Linked DNA regions of Homo sapiens. The protein of the gene in region 1 purifies or fractionates together with the protein of each later gene. This does not show direct contact. Each region holds a gene or a part of one and is shown on either strand. Other genes may lie near its edges.

Region 1 (7,028 bases):
TGGCTTGTGCGTGTAGTCCCAGCTACCCAGGAGGTTGAGGTGGAGGATCACTTGAGCTCGGGAGGCCAAGGTTGCAGTGAATGGAGATCCTGCCACTGCAATACAGCCTGGGAGACAGAGCAAGACTCTGTCTCAAAAAAAAAAGATGCTAGTTTACATCTGATCTTTGACAAACCTGACAAAAACAAGCAATGGAGAAAGGATTCCCTATTTAATAAATGGTGCTGGGAAAACTGGCTAGCCATATGTAGAAAGCTGAAACTGGATCCCTTCCTTACACTTTATATAAAAATTAACTCAAGATGGATTAAAGACTTAAATGTAAGACATAAAACCATAAAAACCCTAGAAGAAAACCTAGGCAATACCATTCAGGACATAGGCATGGGCAAAGACTTCATGACTAAAACACCAAAAGCAATTGCAACAAAAGCCAAAACTGACAAATGGGATCTAATTAAACTAAATTAGATGTACTTATGCACAGCAAAAGAAACTATCATCAGAGTGAACAGGCAACCTACAGAATGGGAGAAAATTTTTGCCGTCTACCCATCTGATAGAGGGCTAATATCCATAATCTACAAAGAACTTAAACAAGTTTACAAGAAAAAAACAACCCCATCAAAAAGTGGGCAAAGGATATGAACAGACACTTCTCAAAACACGACATTTATGCAGCCAACAGACACAGAGGAAATGCTCATCATCACTGGTCATCAGAGAAATGCAAATCAAAACCACAATGAGATACCATCTCACGCCAGTTAGAATGGCGATCATTAAAAATTCAGGAAACAACAGATGCTGGAGAGGATGTGGAGAAATAGGAACGCTTTTACACTGTTGGTGGGACTGTAAACTAGTTCAACCATTGTGGAAGACAATGTGGCGATTCCTCAAGGATCTAGAACTAGAAATACCATTTGACCCAGCAATCCCATTACTGGGTGTATACCCAAAGGATTATAAATCATGCTGCTACAAAGACACATGCACACGTATGTTTATTGCAGCACTGATTCACAGTAGCAGAGACATGAAACCAACCCAGATGTCCATCAATGATAGACTAGATTAAGAAAATGTGGCACATATACACCATGGAATACTATGCAGCCATATAAAAGGATGAGTTCATGTCCTTTGTAGGGACGTGGATGAAGCTGAAAACCATCATTCTAAGCAAACTAACACAAGGACAGAAAACCAACCACCACATGTTCTCACTCATAGGTGGGAGTTGAGCAATGAGAACACATGGACACAGGAAGGGGAACATCACACACCGGGGGGCCTGTCATGGGGTGGGGGCCTGGGGGAGGTATAGCATTAGGAGAAATACCTAATGTAAATGATGAGTTGATGGGTGCAGCAAACCAACATGGCACATGTATACCTATGTAATAAACCTGAACGATTTGCACATGTACCCTGGAATAATATACCCTAGTATAATATTTAAAAAAAATTGGTTTAAGAGAGGATTCTTCCTTTTTTTTAATTTTTTTCTGTATTTCAAAAGTATGTATAGTTTGTATTCCTGAAGTAGTACTTACGGATTATTCTCCTAATTATGTTATTTCAGTGATTTAGCATGTTTAATTCTGAATTGTAAATTTCCGTTATTGTAACTAGGACTTTCATTTCTTTCCCCAGCCATATCCTGCAAATGAGAGTTCTAAACTTGTCTCTGAGAAGGTGGATGACTATGAACATGCAGCAAAGTACATGAAGAACAGTCAAGTAAGGTTACCTTTGGTAAGTTTTAATTTATGAAAGTATTTTATAGAGAATGAAAAAAAGAACATGCTTATATGGAGACATAGGAAATGATTTCACTTGTTTACAATACTTAGGCTCACTGACTTACAAATCAGTTGTTTCCACTAAGTGATGTTGACTTGTTATAACCACAGAATATGGAATAAAATTTATTTCAATGGACTGAGAATGGAGTGCTATATCTAAGGCAATGAGGACAGTGAAAAAATTACAGGGTTGGTGTGCAAGTTCCCTGCTAATGTAGGCACCAATGAACCACAGCATTTCATACATAGAATGCAGCAGTCCAGGAATTTAAATGGGAAAAAATTACATCTTCACCTATACTAATTTCTGCGTAAAAGTTTACATTTTAAGAATGATTACTACAATAGTACCACAGTGGTATTAGCTGCTGCTGTGACTTTGTCATCAGTAGAAGTTACAGATATTTTCATAGCACATTTTTGCTAATATCTTAGAATATTGTTTTCATTTATCACATCTGGAAAAATGACATCACTAGAACTGCCACTAGATCTTGTTATTATAGTTAATGGTGTGTGCAAAGCAACACATATCTTTAATATTTTGATAGCTACATAAATATAATTTATTTCCTTTGTGTGATATGTACTTTATTTTGTTATTCCTTTGAAAAAACACAAAAATTGTATTTTTTCCACCAGTGCTGTTTGATATTTCAAGATAGGCCTTTTTTATTTTTTCATTTTCCAAATTAAGAATACAAGATAGGGCCGGGTACAGTGGCTCACGCCTGTAATCCCAGCACTTTGGGAGGCCGAGGCAGGTGGATCATGAGGTCAGGAAATCGAGACCATACTGGCTAACAGTGAAACCCTGCCTCTACTAAAAATACAAAAATTAGCTGGACGTGGTGACGGGCCCCTATAGTCCCAGCTACTTGTGAGGCTGAGGCAGGAGAATGGGGTGAACCCGGGAGGCGGAGCTTGCAGTGAGCCGAGATCGCAGCACTGCACTCCAGCCTGGGCGACAGAGCCAGACTCTGTCTCAAAAAAAAGAAAGAATACAAGATAGGCCGGGCGCAATGGCTCAACGCCTGTAATCCCAGCACTTTGGGAGGCTGAGGCGGGCGGATCACAACGTCAGGAGATTGAGACCATCCTGGCTGACACGGTGAAACCTCGTCTTTACTAAAAACGCAAAAAGTTAGCTAGGCGTGGTGGCGGGCACCTGTAGTCCCAGCTACTCGGCAGGCTGAGGCAGGAGAATGGCATGAACCCAGGAGGCAGAGCTTGCAGTGAGCCAAGATCACGCCACTGCCCTCCAGTCTGGGCGACAGAGCAAGGCTCTGTCTCAAAAAAAGAAAAAAAAAATAATACAAGATAGATGCATTTTCCAGTTACACACACACACACACACACACACACACACACACAATGCCCTCTTCACACACATTCACCCTTTGGATGAGAATTTGAGAATTTGGCAGGAGGATAAAAGTCTGAGAAGATGACTTTCAAAGTGAATCTCACCGATTTCTTTTATATGCTCAGGTCACAATATGATTAACAGTGAATCGAATGTGTATTTACAGTGAAGTTAGGGTCTTTTGGCCATCTCTGCCCATTATTTAGAAATAAGCATATGTTTACTTCCATATTGAATCTAAAATTTTCTTTTTCTCTTTTGTAATTTTAGGGAACCTTAAGTAAATCAGAATGGGAAGCTACAAGTGAGTATATCATCAGCATAGATTAACTGATAATTTCAAAAGTCCTGTTTCAAAGTGATCATTAAAACCTGAAAAAAGGCTGGGCACTGTGGCTCACACCAGTACTCTCAGTATTTTGGGATGCCGAGACAGACAGATTCCTCGAGCCCAGGAGTTGAGACCGGTCTGGGCAACATGGCAAATGCTTGTCTCTACCAAAAATACAAAAAAATTAGCCAGTCATGGTGGCATGTGCCTGTAGTCCAGCTACTCAGGAGGCTGAGGTGGGAGGATTCCTTGAGCCTGAGAAGTCAAGGCTGCAGTGAGCTGTGATTACATCACTGCACTCCAGTCTGGGCAACACAGCGAGACTCTCAAAAAAAAATCTGAAAACTTTGAGTTTTTCTGACATTTTAGGTTGTGTTTGTGTTTACACACACACACAAATACGTATATCTCTACATATGTCTAATCCTCCTTTCTTGCACAGCTGTGTAGTGCCAAGAGAAGATACACTGTACACAGGGTCTTCCTCAGCATAAACTTGAGTGAGCATGTGTAAACATTCTCATTGCCTATTTGTTACTAAGTAGCCATCTCCATTTGAAGTGTTTACCTCAGATTTCTACTGGAATTTTTGGCTTATAGAATACTTGCATGTCTTTTTTTTATTTGGCCACTCTGATGTGACAGTGAAGGCATAATAATACTAGAACATTCAATGAAACATCCATGAGCAGGATGTGTTAGAGGTGTGCATGATAGGGGACAAATGTGGTGCAAAGATATTCTGAAGTGAGGTTCCTGTGTTCAGAAGAGAAGCCAGAAGCACAGCAAATCTGTGAAGGCCTGTGGTTCTTCAGCAGTGGGTGTTGAGGAAGTCAGGTTGCAGAGCCTCATTGTTACTGTAGGAATCCCCTTACATGGTTGTTGGTGATGTTGAGGCACAAGTGGTCATTAAGGACAATCCATTTGATAAACATTATTGATTTACGTGAAGTTCTGTGAAAGGTAAAGTAAAATAAAGATGTTAAATCTCTACCTTCTAGAAGTCTACACTGTAATGGAAGGAACAGGCACAAATAAACACTACTAGGCAAATTTTTAAGTGCTAATGATACTGTAGTGGGGCACAAAGGTGAAAGAGAGCTTAATGAAAACTAAACTAATGACATCTGGGATGTAGTAATATTGATATTACTGAGTGTTGAACATGTGCAGGTGCGTGTAACGTTTTTAATCCTTGTAATAACTCACATGTTGTAACTCATTTAATCCTCACAATGACTTTATGAGTAGAGTATTATATCTCCTTTCACAGATGAGAAGACTAACAACTTAGCTAAGATCACAGAGCTAACCTGTGGTTAGCTTACCTAAGTGATCTGTCATTTTAACTATGGTTTCATGGAAGCCTGGCAAAAGGAAAATCTAGTAAGACTTCCTGAGTTGGATAGAGAAGAAGAGGAAAGGAGTCAAGCAAGACCAGTATTTTGAGGCTATTTGTCTTTGAACATTGGTACTATTACTAGAAATCGGACTGGAGGATGTTATACACATACGATCATGCTTGACACACTGGTGAGCATGTGCATAAACTATGGATTTTATTACTTTTTCCCTGCAGTGGAGACTGGTTGCCTGTCTTAGACATCCTGCTGGTCCCAAAGTAGAGTGTAAATTTTGATCACGAGTCATCATGATGGCGGTACTGGCTGTGGCTTAGAACTGTATTTTTATATTATTAAGTGTGGACTTTAGTCATCATGTACAAATGAAAAATTAGATGGCCCCAGACAATTGGAAGAGATGGGCTGGACATGCGAAGAGAGCAGTGGCCAAATTGCACCTCGGGTGTAGCACCCCAGGATTGTTTGGCTGTTTGATGAATTGCTCTGTTCTAAGCTAGAGGGCTTCGTGGGTTGAGCGTATTTTGCATGCCATCACGAGTCTAAAAGGCCCAGGCTACATTTTAGACTTCTACTGGTCTGATCATTAAGCTATCACCAGAGCTGCTGCTCCTCTAGAAGATGGCTTTAAATGAGAAAGGAGAGAATTGCTATTGATTTATTTCTGGAAGTGGAAGTGGTTCACGATTTGATTTTTTTAAATCCCAATTGAAATGCCTGCATAGAAGGCATTTTATACAATAAGTGGGACTTTTTAGGAGTTTCAAGTTAGAAAGAAAGTTGCTATTATGTATTGAAAATCAGACTCTAGCATGTTAGTGGTTTCAAATGACCCTAAATGAGGACAGGACAGGACTGAGGGGTTGTTTGCAATTGCTATGGGTGTGTGGGGGGTGGGATTTGGCAGGGCTGGGCTGCACAAAGGTCACACAGAGTGGGGGACAGCATGAGTGATACTGGCCAGCTGTGAGTGCTGACATGCTGTGCACGCTGATGTGTTGCAAGTGCTGGGGACTGCTTTGTCTCCTTACCTTCTGGCAAGAACCACAGAATTGATGAACACCCTGCCTGTTTTCTGTCCTATCGCTGTGCTACTAGCCACATTTCATTTCAACTAAAAGAAATTGGAAACCGGTAAATAAGGTGACCAAAGTAGTATTTTGGAAAAACTGCTATGGTGTTCCTGTACAAGTTGGGTTGGAAGAGCAAGAAGCTGGAGTCTTGGGAGGCCATCAGGCAGTTAGCTGTGTTCATCTACCCTCCCTTCAAAAGAAGTCATCTCAAGGAGTGAGGCCTCCAGCTTAGATGGACTTGATCTTGACTCACTGTTGAGTATCCTAGCACATGCCCCAAACATCCTTGTGATGTTTGCAGGATTTGTCACCTTTGCAGGTATTTTCTTGCCCTAAAATCTATTGGTATTTTATTAGAAGATATACAGGCATACCTTGGAGATACTGCAAGTTCAGTTCTAGACCACCACAATAAAGCAAGTCACTCAGATTTTTTGGTTTCCCAGTGCATATAAAAGTTATGTTTACTGTAGTCTGTTAAGTGTGTAGTAGTGTTGTGTCTGAAAACCATGTACATACCTTAATTTAAAAATACTTCATTGGTAAAAAAATGCTGATGATCATCTGAACCTTCAGTGAATCTGAATCTTTTCTGCTTGGTGAAGGGTCTTTCCTCCATGGCGGAAATACTCTTGATGGATGGTGGTTGCCGAAGATTGGTGTGGCTGTGGCAGTTAAGACAATGAAGTTTGCCTCATTGATTGACCATTCTTTCACAGAAGATTTCTCTGTAGCATGCAGTGCTGTTTGATAGCGTTTTACCCACTGTAGAACTTATTTCTAAATTGGAGTCACTCCTCTGAAACCCTACTGGTCTTTATCAACTAAGTTTTTGTAATATTAATATTCGAAATCCTTGTCATTTCAACAATGTTCCCAATGTGTTTACCAGAAGTAGATTCTATCTCAAGCTCATCCATAAGAAGCAGCTCTTCATTTGTTCAAGTTTGATCATGAGATTGCAGCAATTCAGTCACATCTGCAGGCTCCACTTCTAATTCTGGTTCTCTTGTTGTTGCCATCCCGTCTGCAGCTACTTCCTCCACTGATGTGTTGAACCCCTTGAAGTCATGCATGAGGGTTGGA
Region 2 (7,028 bases), on another chromosome or scaffold:
CAGCAAATTGTCATATCTAAGGATTTATAGTGTTATTTGTTTGTTTGTTTTTTGGCATCTTTGTTTCTTTGTGCTTTTTTTGTTTTGTTTGTGGTTTGTCTTAATCACTTTAATGTTGGAGGCTGTCTTCATTTATCTGGTGATTTTTGAACAAATTTCGGAAGAAACTAAAAACTGATTGGAAATGAGTGTATAAATGGACTTCATTGTAGGATAATTGGGCAGCAAAACCATATTTTCTTAGAGGAACACTAAATTTCAGTCTCTTTTGTGAGACCATTCAGTTTTTTTAGAGACAGATTTTGCATTCTTTTGCTGGAAGATGGGTAGATTGGGTTGAGGTATAGAGTAGGTAACATACCTGGCTACTACATATCCTGCAGCTGGGCACTGTGTCTCATGCTGTAATCCTAGCACTTTGGGAGGCTGAGGTGAGAGGATGGTTTGAGCCCAGGGGTTCGAGGCCAGCCTGGGCAACATTGTAAGAGCCTGTCTCTACAAAAAAATTTAAAAAATTAGCTGACTGTGGTAGCACATGCCTGTACTCCCAGCTACTCAGGAGGCTGAGATGGGGAGGATTGCTTGATCCTGGGAGGTTGAGACAGCAGTGAGCTGTGATCATGCCACTGCACCTTGAGCTTGGGCAACAGAGCAAGACCCTGTCTCAAAAATAAAAAATACAAATAATAAACATCTGGGAACTGAGTATTGGGAAAGAGCTAGAGGTTTTCACTAGTCAGTATGCAGACTTACACTTATCTCCTACTTTCTAGTCTAGTGCTTCATTTCAACCTCCACTGTGCTTTATATCCCAAAGTTCTGTTTCTGTGATTCACATTTTGTTGTCCAGTTTCTCCTTCAAATAAACTTCCAGTCTTTGGTAGCATTGAGAATGCTAGTCACCTACCTTTGTAGTAGGGACCCAAAGTCTATCCTGCTTCTTATCAGATTTTTAACCTCTTCCTCTACTTTAGCACCGTTTCCCCTGCTGTCTGTGATACCTGGTTCCTCTGATTTCTAAGCATTTGGAGTTGATGGTGGGGAGATAAATTAGCTTTCCTCTTATTGGTAGTTCCCTCTCCTGGCATTAAGCTTCCACTTTTCTCCCCTCTTCTAAGTCGGTTACTGTTTCTTTATTCACTTTTGTCTTTATATATTGTGGGCAGGATTATTAATGTCTACTGGCCTTTTCAAAGTTGGAATTTGTATTTCTGTTTCTTTTTTTTTTTCCTGAGAAGATACTGGGGCAGAAATGTTTTTACTTTGCTCACTTAATACTGGAAATAGGTATTAGTTCATTGTTTTTTAACTCAGCGAAAAGGTATATGTCAGCTATATTAATTTTTTTAAACATACTTTATATTTGCTTCAAAAACCCGATATTTGGCTGGGTGTGGCGGCTCATGCCTGTTATTCCAGCATTTTGGGAGGTTGAGGTGGGTGGATTGTTTTGAGCACAGGAGTTCTAGACCAGCCTAGGCAACATGGTGAAACCCTGTCTGTACAAAAATTAGCTGGGCATGGTGGCTCACACCTATGATCCCAGCTACTCAGGAGGCTGAGGCTGGAGGATTGCTTGAGCCCAGGAAGCAGAGGTTGCACTCCAGCCTGGGCAACAGAGTGAGACCCTGTCTCAAAAACAAAACAAAACAAAAAACGAAAAACAAACCCTGATTTCTCTGTTCAAGGAAGAGGTGGTTGGCAAGGGTGGAAGCTTGATTGCTGGAGAAGGATCCAGTTGTGCTGATTTTATTTGCCCACTAACAGATAGACATACCTATTATGTAAGCTAACTGATTTGTGTACATGAGTCCTAGGGTCATCTTTAGATGGTAACTACTTCCAGAAAATGTGGTATATATTCTGATAATCTTGAAAATCATCTTTAGAGGACAGGCCCAGCAGAGATGGTAACTGCTTTCAGAAGAGGATAGTTTATATGCTGATAATCTTGAAAATCATCTTTAGAGGACAGGCCCAGCAGAGATGGTAACTGCTTTCAGAAGAGGATCGTTTATATACTGATATTCTTTAAAATAGGGGTAAAGAGAAAAGTCATCTAAAATATTAGAACATTTAAGAAAAATGTCATCACTTTTTATTTGTGAGATACATAACATATAACATAGTTCTTTTTTTTTGTTTTTTAGTAGAGATCGGGTTTCTCCATGTTGGTCAGGCTGGTCTCGAACTCCTGACCTCAAGTTATCTACCCGCCTCGGCCTCCCAAAGTGCTGAGATTACAGGCATGAGCCACCGTGCCCAGCTTAACATACTTCTTAACTGAGGAGAAAGACTAAGGGATATGTTAGGTTGCTTATTTTAAAAAAACAGCTTTAAGGAACATAGCATCAATAGTGATCATGGGAATTTAAAAAAAGCCAACATTTGAGTGCCTACTCTATGTCAGGCACTGTTCTTAGGTGCTACATGCCTTCTTATCAGTGTAATAGTTTATTAATGACTTCCACTTGAGTACCCTTCACAAATATATTTATTTTTGTACTTTCTGTACCTTAGTTCCTCAAATGATTATTAGATTTATTTCCAGTTAAGTACATGTAATGAGTACAGTGAGGCTCATTAAAGTTAGATTATATTCTGTGATCATCATATCAAACACTTAACTGGAACATTTGAACTTCTCAGTTTTGGTATGCTTTTTTTGTGGGGGTGTGTGTGATTTAGACACAGACAAGAGATCTCAAATATTTTACTATTTTTTAAAACAAATTTAACTACATATCTTATTCAATATAACATAATAGTAGTCATAATCAGCTTCATATTCATACATCTGATTATAATTTTAAAACAATATAAATTTTCTGGTATTTTTATAACATTAAATTTTTGTTTTAAAATGAATTTCTATATTTTTCTAAGGAAACTTGGTTTTAAATAGAGAAAAAATTTAAATATGCTCTTTCTTCCCTTACAGGTTTCACCTTGCTTAAATGTCCTGTCACGACTGTTGTTTAGCAGTGACCCAGATGTGTTAGCAGACGTGTGTTGGGCCCTTTCTTATCTCTCCGATGGACCCAATGATAAAATTCAAGCAGTCATTGATTCTGGAGTCTGTCGAAGATTGGTGGAACTTTTGATGTAACTATAAATAATTTATGCTTAATAATTGTATGATTGAGATTAAAATTAGCAATTCAAGTAATAGCTTTGTAAATATCTCAAGAGTCACTGTCTTCAGGGAAAATTAAAAAGCTACTGACCCAACACTTAACAGAATAGCCATAATCCTAGAAAGTTGACCCTAAAATTTGGAACTTATGTCCTATAGTTGGAACTAATTATTTTGTAAATGAATTTCCTTAGTTTAATGTGATCTCTTTATGAATTAGATAAACTTAATAAGTATTTATGGAATGCCTGTTATCTGCTAAGGTGTTGTGTGAGACATTAATGAAGTATAGAACACAGTTTCTCCTCTCACAGAACAAATAATCTAGTTTATTATTCATTATAATAATTAATTTGAGTAAAAGTCCATGTAGTGAAAATCATTTAGTATTTCACCTCTATTAAAGATAACATGTTTCTCTTTGCTGGGCTGTTATAGCTATTTTCCTTAAAAAGAACAGCTTTTCTATACAAAGAAGTTAAAAACGTTGAAGAAAACTTGTTTTAAAAAGATGTTGTAACTTCATAACTTCATCTACTTACCCTCTTTAAAAAATGTATTATCTTCCTTCCTTTCTTCTTTTGTCGAGAAGCCATTGTAGGCCCAAACAAGGTAGATGGCACAAAGATAGGTCTGATAAGGAGTTGGGGGTCCCAGCATGAGGATAGCATCAGTGGAGGGTGGGCATGCAGGTTCAGCATGGGGGATCAGGGCCCCAACTTGATAATGACACCCACTGGGGTGAGCAGATAAGCAGGCTGGAGCAGGACTTGGAGCCAGCACATCATGGGGTACCAGTCTGGCTGAGGTAAAAGATTGGCTGATATAGGGAGGTTAGGAAAATAGAAGCTATTTCCTGTTATCGGAGAATAGAGATAAAAATATAGAAGAGGAGAAAGCCTGAATAATTTAATTATTTTAGATTAGAACTAGAAATATCAGTGTGAACTCATGGCTCTTAACATAGCTAGGTATGGAAATAAATATATACATGTGTGTAGGTATGTGTGTGTGCATCCTCTTGAAGGGCATGGGAACAGTAACACTTCTACATTAATAAGCTGAGGAAACTGAAGTTCAAATCGAAGTTTCTAAACACTACTCTCCATTGAAAGGAACCAAGATTGTTGGAGAAATGACTGGTTTCAGGACTGGGACTGAGAAAAATGTAAGATGAATGCAGGAAGTAATGAGTGCTCAAGTAATGGACAGATGTCAAAAGAACACAGAAGCCTATTTGAAGGGGTTCTCACTATCCAAACCTGGGACAGTTTGTGCTTTGAAATAAATTGCATTAATGTATATTTTATTGAATAAAATATGAAACCCATAAGTCCACACTAAAGCATGTAGTTAGAATGATAGTATTAGAAATACATCACTGGTAATAATACTAATAATTACCAATACTTCAGATAATAAGCATCAAGAGATGCTAAAATCTAGTGGTAAAGTAGGTTAAGGAGTGGGATTTTGCATTATCTCAAAGTATTTTGTTGCAAAATATTAATTATATTAATTATAAATGGGAAAACAATAATGGTAAAATGGAAAAGTCTGGCAGACATCATCATAATTAGTGACCAGAATTCAGTACCAATATAATGGGAAAAAACAGATTGGGATATAATGAAAAGGTTATAGCACTTACGATATCCCCCAGCCAAAGTATATAACCTGGGTCTTAATCATGAAAAACATTGGATAAACCCAAATAATGGGCTTATGATCTTCAAAAATGGCAAAATCATGAAAATTAAGGGAAGACTGAGAAATCATTCTGGAGAGACATGAAAACTGGCTGTAATGAACGATCCTGGATTAGATCCTTTGTTATAAAGATTATCAGAATAATTAGTAAAACTTCAATGGGATCTTTGGCTGAACACCCCGCAGGAGTTTGTAGTATTTTTGTAACTTCTGTGTAAATTTTAAATTCTTACTAGTATTTAGGTTCATGTTTTTATTATTTTTAGGCACAATGATTATAAAGTTGTATCACCTGCATTAAGGGCAGTTGGTAATATTGTGACTGGTGATGATATTCAAACACAGGTGAGTTCAAACTTGAGTATCATAAATTGTTAACATAAAGGACTTTAAAAAATTTATGTTTCATACAACTTGATTACATATTAATCAAGATTTTAGCATCACCATAATTGTGTGTGTGTCTGTATCTGTGTCTTGGAGGATGGTGAGATGTCAAAGAAGATGTGCTGTCAAGATTGACTCCAGCCAGATTTGGGTTACAATCTTTTTATTTATTTAGTAAGTTAGTTTAGTTAGAGACAGGATATTGCTCTTTCTCCTAGGCTGGGGTGCAGTGGTGTGATCATGGCTCACTGCAGCCTTTACCTCCCTGGCTTAAGCAGTCCTCCTGGCTCAAGCAGTCCTCCCGCCTCAGCCTTCCAAGTAGTTGGGACTGCAGGTGTGCACCACCACACCTGGCTAATTTATTTATTTATTTATTTTTTAGGGACAGGGTCTTGCTATGTTGCCCAAGTTGGTCTCAAATTCCTGAGCTCAAGTGATCCTCCTGCTTTGGCCTCTCAAAGCGTTAGACTTACAGGCATGAGCCAGTATGTCCAGCACAATCTTTCTTGAAGATAGAAACTTAAATTATTTAACACGTTAGATTCTCCTTTGTTTACCGCCTTACAGTGTATTTTTTATTCTAACCTACATATTTTCTTTCAGTTTTATCCTTTTAAAGGCCTATTTGGATACTAATCATAGTTATTAAATAGTTGCTCTTTAGTAATTGACAGTTATTCATTTAATATAGCTCTTGAAATGAAAATGCCATTCTAGACATATACTGTAATTTTCAGTTGGATTTCCAGTGCACTGCTCCACACTTCTTCACCAGATGAATTTAATGTAAATCATTGGAGTATTTTGAATATAGGAACATAATTAATCTTGCAATGGAATAAAGAATGTAAAGGGACAATGCAGAATATACTTGTTTACAGAAGAAGAGTAAGATAGTAAAAATTTTTATGAAGCCAATTGATTCTACATGCTGTTTTTAATGGTTGTAGAATTGGATTTTCTCAGACTGTATGATATATGTATTTTTTTCACCAATTCATTTGGCAAAACTAGAGGTTGGATCCTGACCTCGGTCACCAAATCTTTTTTCAGTTTTATCAGTTGAACTCTGAGAACATTTGTAAATATGAAGGATACACCTCTGATTTTCATTTTATTGGGTTGAGAACAGGGCAGTTCCTTATAGTGGCAGGAGACTAGGTTTATCAATAGCAGACGTGTAGAAGACAGCAAGTTTTACTTTGGGAGGAATTTCTCCTTTCTTAATTTCACTTTCTAGAATGGGTTTTGTACATCTAAATAATTCATTAGTAGATTTTCATATAGGTTATTTACTATAAAACTTTTTGTTTCCATTTCTAACTTGTTTTAGGTAATTTTGAATTGTTCTGCATTACCCTGTCTCTTACATTTATTGAGTAGCCCAAAGGAGTCAATTAGAAAAGAAGCCTGCTGGACTGTTTCTAACATCACTGCTGGAAATAGAGCTCAGATTCAGGTAACTACCCTTCAGATCTGAGAGTAGAACAGCAAGGTCTAAGAAGCCAGTTTGGACAAAAGTTAACACTTTTACTAAAAAAGATTCCTTTTTAAAAAGATACCGAAAAAGTATTTTAAAGAACATGGGCTTTCCTCCTCTAAAATAATAACATTTACTTGTAGTATTCTAGTGAAGAACATCAAGTGTGTGTGTGTGTGTGTGTGTCTAGCACAGTGCCTGACACATAATGGTTTGTCTTTAGAAAGATATTTTTTTGCATTAGTTTTAAATAAGTTATGCAATAATCTTCCTCTCAAAGCTTTTAATGATTTATTAGGGTTCTATCAAGCTTCT
Region 3 (7,028 bases), on another chromosome or scaffold:
TGGATACCAACAAAAGGTACTTTTTTTGTATTTAATATTAATATTAATATTTAATGCCTTTACAATATTTAATGCCTTTACAGAATTTTTATTTAATATTCTCTGATTTTTGGATACCAACAAAAGGTACTTTTTTTTTTTTTGAGATGGAGTCTCGTTCTGTCACCCAGGCTGGAGTGCAGTGGTGCGATCTTGGCTCACTGCTGCAACCTCCACCTCCCGGGTCCAAGCAGTTCTCCTGCCTCAGCCTCCTGAGTAGCTGGGATTACAGGCGCCTGCCACCATACCCAGCTGATTGTTTGTATTTTTAGTAGAGACTGTGTATTTTTAGTTTCACTATGTGGGCCGGGCTGGTCTTGAACTCCTGACCTCGTGATCCTCCCGCCTTGGCCTCCCAAAGTGCTGGGATTACAGGCATGAGCCACTGCAGCTGGCCAACAAAAAGTAAATTTTAAAGGCTCTGGTGAGAATTCTGGACCTTCTTTTGGGGCTTTATATGTAAGCTAGGATACTTTTGCAGGAAGGTAACAGGAACTCTGACTCAATCTGGCTCAAACAATAGGAAAACTTATTTCACACATTAGGATGTCCAAAAGTAGGGATGAATTTAGGGCAAGTTGACCAAGTGGCTCAACAGTGTTACCAGGGATCCATATTCTTTCCATCTCTGCTCTGTCCACTTTAGTGTAGTGGCAACTAGTCCAGCTCTCACATACAGAGAAACGAAGTTTTCTTGTGATTTGCTCAGAACTCCCCCTAACCCCCACATCCTATCACTGGTCAGAATTGGTTTTTCATTCCCAAGAGTGATGGATTACCATGATGGTTTCATTATTGGTTCTTAACGGGGCTTCATATGTCACTTCAGAGTGTGGGGAAGCATTTAAAATTCCCATGCCTGAATCCCATTCTAATAGATTCTGATTCTGAAGGCATGGACGTTGGGATTTTCAAAAAACTTCCCAAGTGATTCTAATGTACAGCTTGGGGTGAGAATCTCTAGTTGGACTTACAATGGGCAGCATGGATTTGAGGAGTTAACTACAATGTTACTAGCACATCTGTTTTAAAAATTTGGCTAAAATCCTTCTAAAATGTGTTTACATTTATTTCTCAAACAGATATCATGGCTATATTTTTGGTTTCTACAAGTGGCATCATGAACCTGCTGAATTCCAGGCTAAAACCCAGGTTCAGCAACTTCTTGTCTCAATCACCCTTCAGTCAGAGTGTGATGCTTTCCCCAACATATCTTCAGATGAGTCTTGTAAGTACCTATGCAATGTGAGTGTATTATATCCCAGGTGCTCGCTGACGGACTTAAGTGCCAAAAACTGACTCCATGCTAGGAACCACTGAGTTCTCAACCAGTGAGTTTATGATTCCTATTTTAAAAATAACCTTTAAAGTCTGATTATAAAAGTAGTACATAGTCTTTGTGGAAAATTTATTAAGTACAGTAAGTGCAGAAGAAGAAATAAATCACTCATAATCCCAGCAGATAGAATTAATCACTGTCATTTTAGGTGTATTTTTTTGCAGAGTAAAACATGTAAACATTTTACATAGACATAAATACAAACATGATAAGCATTGACATGAAAATGGCAGTAATTCTGTACATGTGCTTCTTGTATTTTTGTTGTATTTTTATATCATGCTTTTTTGCAAAATACATTATAAATTAAACATGAATTTCACTAGTTTTCTGTGATATCATTTTCAATGGCTGAATAATGTTCTGTCACTATATGGATGAGCTGACTTGGGTAATCTCTTTTGGACATCTAGGTAATTTCTTAACTTTTTGTCTTTGAAAACATCTGTATCCATGATCTCTATTTATAATCTAATTTTACAGAAAGATAATGCAGAGCTAGGGGAGAGGGTGGGTACAGCAGTTTCATTTGTAATCTGCTGTACAATATAATCAACATTTAGCTGTATGATTTTGTCCTCGTTGTTGCCTAAAACGTTATTCTCTAGGGCTTTTCCCAAATTGTTTTAGAACAAATAAGTGGGCGTGCCATTTCTATAGGGTATACTGCCTGAGAATAATGTGGAATTGCACCAAGGAATCAAAGAAGGGCAGTATAAGGACATGTGTAATATAAGATTCGTGCAAGAAAGAGCAGACAGGGGAACTAAGTGTAAAGATAGAGGCTGGACGCTGTGGCTCATACCTGTAATCCCAGCACTTTGGGAGGCTGAGGTGGGTGGATCACTTAAGGCCAGGAGTTCAAGACCAGCCTGGCCAATATGCTGAAACTGCATCCCTACTAAAAAATACAAAAAGTTAGCCAAGCGTGTTGGTGCGTACCTGTAATCCCAGCTACTCGGGAGGCTGAGGCAGGAGAATCACTTGAACCCAGGAGGCAGAGGTTGCAGTGAGCTGCAATCATGCCGCTGCACTCCAGCCTGGGGGACAGAGTGAGACAGTCTCAAAAAAAAAAAAAAAAAAAAAAAAAAAAAAAAAAAAAAAAAAAAAAAAAAGATAGGATGCCACAAATTTAGAGAAAAGAGCAACTCCATTACCCCCAGACTGCCTCACAGTTAAGTACATGTCTTCATCCTGCTGGTTTAGATGAGATTTCTCAATAATACATCTCTTTGAAAAAAAGCTTTCTTTCTCTTCAATTCCATAGCTGTTCTTAGAAGAGAAATAGGAAAATTCACCAACATCAGGTATCATTTCAATTGATACTCAGCACTCAGACACCATGTGAAGTAGGTTTTGCAACCTGAATTGAGATGGAAATGGTCATTACGTTGCCAAGGAATCTTTGCTGTCCATTGGCAATACAGATAACAGATTGTAAATTCCACAAAATGAAATGTATCGAGACTAGAGAGTCATAGCTTATCTTTCAGTCAGTTCTACAAACCCTCTTTATTCTGAAAGGGAAGTTTCTTGAGACAAGGTTATTGTGAAATTTTCAGCTGAAGAATAAACTAGTTTTTAGTCTTTAAACTAGTTGATGATGATGATAAAAGTAACACATATGAATGGAAATAACAAGATATCAAATGTCCAGAGTGGGAGGACATGTTGGAGGAGGTGACACATGTTAAAGCACCACTATTTATTAAAAATAAAAATATGCATGCCCTGAGAAGTGGACTAGTTTTTACTGCAGATAAATGGACACATAAATCAAGGATGTTTGATGCAGTTTGCCTGTAATGTGAAGAACTGTCAATAAAACTCAATGTCCATCAATAGAGGAATGGCTAAATACATCTTGTCAATCTATACTAAACAGTATAATCACAACAGTTAAGAATAAAGAAGCAGTATTACTGAGAACACACATGGAGAACTGACAAGATAAACTGCTGAGTTGAACAAAGGAAGCTGTATAATTATGTGTAGAGGTGGACCCTGTTTATATATCAACACACGTGCAGGAACACACGCATAAAGCAATACTATATTTTCTCCTTCCGTGTACATCTATGTCAAGCCTAAGAAAATGCCCGATAAGTATTTCCTCTGAGGAAGGTAGAGGGAGTTAGGTGAGTATCTCAAAGGAGATTTTAGCCTTATCTATATTATATTGCTTTTAAACAGAATATATAGATATGTCATTTGTATATTCACCCTCCAAAACAAATGTATTTATGGTGCAAAAAGATACAGAATGGGCTAACTGAAAAGTCAATGATATAATTCCTTTCACACTTCAGGGAAGTGATCATTGTTAACACTAATAACTTGGTTGTGAAGTAAAAATGGAAATTCTATAGCTATGTGTCCATATATTTAGAAAACCAAATTTCTAATTGTTATATGTATTTTCCACTGAGTTGAATTACAGTCCTGTTTAATATCAGCCAGTTGTCAACTATTAGAAAATAATTGGTATCAAATATATGCAATATATTAATGTTTTTTAGGTGACTGTGCTATTTCTGGAAGATCTCAAAACTAGAATGTGGCAAAAAAATGTTTTTAAACAGTGACCAATGGAGCAGTGAGCTCTAGGTAGCTGATTAAGAATTTGATACAGGCTGGGTACAGTAGCTGACACCTGTAATCCCAACACTTTGGGAGGCTGAGGCCGGTAGATGGCTTGAGCCCAGGAGTTCAAGACCAGCCTGGGCAACATGGCAAAACCCTGTCTCTACAAAAAAAAAAAAAAAAAAGAAAGAGAAAAATTAGCCAGGCGTGGTGGCACATGCCTACAGTCCCAGCTACTTGGGAGGTCGAGGCTGCAATGAACCGTGATTGTGCCACTCCACTCCAGCCTGGGCAGCACAGTGAGACTCTGTCTCAACAACAACACAAGAATTTGCTATAGATGTAGAGGAAACATAATTAGACTATGCTCATAAATAGCAATATAGTTCTTAGCCTGGCATTGGCTAACTCATCTAATGGAGTGTGGTTATCTAATGGAAAAGGCTATCTTGTCAGAAGACTATCACCTGAGATGCTCACACTACTGATAGAGCACTTTTGCCTACCTGCAGCTAACTATTCTGTGAGCATCTGAATGGTGGTGGTGGTAGAAGGTGATAAACCACCCCAGAGGACACAGTATTAAATCATTAATCTCCAGCCCATCAGTGTCTTTGCCGTGGCAAAGTCCAAAGCTGTTACACCCTTTAGCTTTCAATCTCTTTACCATCTGTGGGTTTACTATGTGGTTGATTCCACTCCAGACCTCTCTAAAAGACTAAATGACTATTGGGCCAACCTTAGAGTGTGCTTCAAAGATTGAAAGATTAGCCTCTCACCAGAAGCAGCTAACTGGAGTCCCATTCTGGATGATGTGAACTTTTAATTGAGTGGGACAAAGCTGAATTATTTTTATTGAGTGAGACAAAGCTGAACTAAGCTAAAGGGATTTGGAGAGTAAGTCTTAAGGCAGATTTGGATGATACTGAGGGAAGGTGGGTACAGGGCAAGTAGAAAATTCTGAATGCAAAAGAGTGGAGATACTCTCTGGCCTTAAAGGGAGTAGATTTGAGCGACACCTAGGGCGTTACCAAGGATTAGTAGGAACTGAGGAATGTTTGCACTTTCAACTAAACTCTTAGCTTAACTAGGACCCTACTCTGTTGAGGAGAAGTTGGAGAGACTAACTCTTTTAGGAAAATGAGGAAACATGGAGTTGACACCCAAATTCCCGTTCTGAGTGACTCAAGTGACTGGATGGTGGTGCTGTGACTCACTGAAATGAGGAACACAGAAGACCAGCAGGTTGAAGTGTGCGGAGGAGGGAGGGAAGAGTTCTGTTGGGGCATGTGGAGTCGAAGGAACCTGCAGGACATCCAAATGGAGATGTACAGGAGGCAGTTAGAGAAATAGGTCATGTGCTTGGGAGAAAATAATAGTCCAGAAATATCAATGACATGTTTAGGAAACTTATTGTGTGTCATTGAGGGATTAACAAAAGTGTGTGTGTGATTTTAAATCCTCAATACAGATACTTTACTTGTGAAAGAACCAGTGGCTGTCCTTAAGGCCAACAGAGTTTGGGGAGCATTACGAGGTAAGTTCCATGCAGTTTCATTGTTACTTTCCAGTAAAGGAAAATTTTCAGTTGGTGCTTTGTGAAATTAAGCACAGCAAAACTTTGCCGCCTTAGATCCTTTACAGAATGCTTTGTTATGTAGTTCCAAAATGATTTCCATTGAACATGTACTACATAAAGCATGGGAGAGGTCAGCACAGTGGCTCACGCCTGTAATCCCAGCACTTCGAGAGGCTGAGGTAGGTGATGATTGCCTGAGCTCAGAAGTCTGAGACCAGCCTGGGCAACATGGTGCAACTCCATCTCTACAAAAAGTACACAAATTAGCCAGGCATAGTGGTGTGGACCTATAGTCCCAGCTACTCTGGAGGCTGAGGTGGGAGGATTGCTTGAGTCCAGGACGTTGAGGCTGCAGCGAGCCTAGATCACACCACTGCATTCCAGGCTGGGCAACAGAGCAAGACCCCTGTCTCAAAAAAATACAAATAAATAAATACAGCATGGGAGAAAACTCATTTGACCTCTCAAAAAATGTTTGAAGGTTATTACATTCCTGCAGTGCTGTAATTCATTGATGCTCTTGGGACTGTAATGTTTATAGCACTACACATGGCCCCAACCTGTCCTGATTAGGGAATTTTGTTTCAGCTATCACTTCTGTTGACTTCAGAAGCAAGCATCTCTCTTCCCTAATTTTAAATTCCTGTAGATTTAGAAACATAACTAAGTTTGTATAAGGAACAGTGTCAAAAGGCAAATATGCTATAGAGTTGGTTAGAGGCAGTGGGCAGGGAGTAACTTGAAAAGCTTCTCATGAGAATTTCAGAGTCTGAACTTCAAAGTTTGACCTCAGGACATTTGCTGTTCAAAAGTTTCTTTTACCTTTCTTTCTAGGCAGATAAGATACTGTACTGACTTCCGAATAGCAGAGTTTTTAGAAAGGGAATTTAAAAAAACATGAACTAACCAAACTTAGTCATTAAAATAAAGGCTTGGGATTGATCATAGTCACTCACACCTGTAATCCCACCACTTTGGGAGGTTGAGGCAGGCAGATCACTTGAGGTCAGGAGTTCGAGACCAGACTGGCCAACATGGTGAAATCCCATCTCTACTAAAAATACAAAAAAAAAATGAGCCAGGCATGGTGGCGCATGCCTGTAATCCCAACTACTTGGGAGGGTGAGGCAGGAGAATTGCTTGAACCTGGGAGAGGGAGGTTGCAGTGAGCTGAGCTGGCACCACTGCATTCCAGCCTTGGTGACAGAGCAAAACTCCATCTCAAAAAACAAAATAAATAAAGATTTGGAATCTGACTCAGAGTGTTACCTAAAATAATCATTGTTATGCTATATATTTTATACCATAAGATTATAATTTTATTCAAAATAGAATATGAAAATATCTAGATATTTACTACAAATGTAATTTTATTTATGTATAATATTAGTGATTTTAAGCTTTTATTAGTCCAATCTGCCTGTCTCATCTGCGTCTGCTAAGGAGAAGAGACGCTTTTTTTTTTTTTTTTTTTTGAGACAGAATCTT

What was found. The genes of interacting proteins can lie anywhere in the genome.
Region 2: the proteins of RNMT (region 1) and KPNA5 purify together in Homo sapiens (co-immunoprecipitation; 3 studies listed by BioGRID and IntAct, with this or other methods). This does not show direct contact.
Region 3: the proteins of RNMT (region 1) and HEXB purify together in Homo sapiens (affinity purification with mass spectrometry; 2 studies listed by BioGRID, with this or other methods). This does not show direct contact.

Annotation. Positions count from the first base shown.
Region 1 is NC_000018.10:13,750,667-13,757,694, forward strand, and holds part of RNMT (mRNA cap guanine-N(7) methyltransferase), read left to right. Parts: intron 1-1,659; coding exon 1,660-1,761; intron 1,762-3,447; coding exon 3,448-3,481; intron 3,482-6,547; coding exon of another isoform or gene 6,548-6,693; exon of another isoform or gene 6,694-7,028. UniProt on the Homo sapiens protein: Catalytic subunit of the mRNA-capping methyltransferase RNMT:RAMAC complex that methylates the N7 position of the added guanosine to the 5'-cap structure of mRNAs. Binds RNA containing 5'-terminal GpppC.
Region 2 is NC_000006.12:116,719,185-116,726,212, forward strand, and holds part of KPNA5 (importin subunit alpha-6), read left to right. Parts: intron 1-2,941; coding exon 2,942-3,105; coding exon of another isoform or gene 3,106-3,109; exon of another isoform or gene 3,110-4,140; intron 4,141-5,112; coding exon 5,113-5,191; intron 5,192-6,566; coding exon 6,567-6,692; intron 6,693-7,028. UniProt on the Homo sapiens protein: Functions in nuclear protein import as an adapter protein for nuclear receptor KPNB1. Binds specifically and directly to substrates containing either a simple or bipartite NLS motif.
Region 3 is NC_000005.10:74,688,207-74,695,234, forward strand, and holds part of HEXB (beta-hexosaminidase subunit beta isoform 1 preproprotein), read left to right. Parts: intron 1-1,121; coding exon 1,122-1,267; intron 1,268-5,432; coding exon 5,433-5,498; intron 5,499-7,028. UniProt on the Homo sapiens protein: Hydrolyzes the non-reducing end N-acetyl-D-hexosamine and/or sulfated N-acetyl-D-hexosamine of glycoconjugates, such as the oligosaccharide moieties from proteins and neutral glycolipids, or from certain mucopolysaccharides.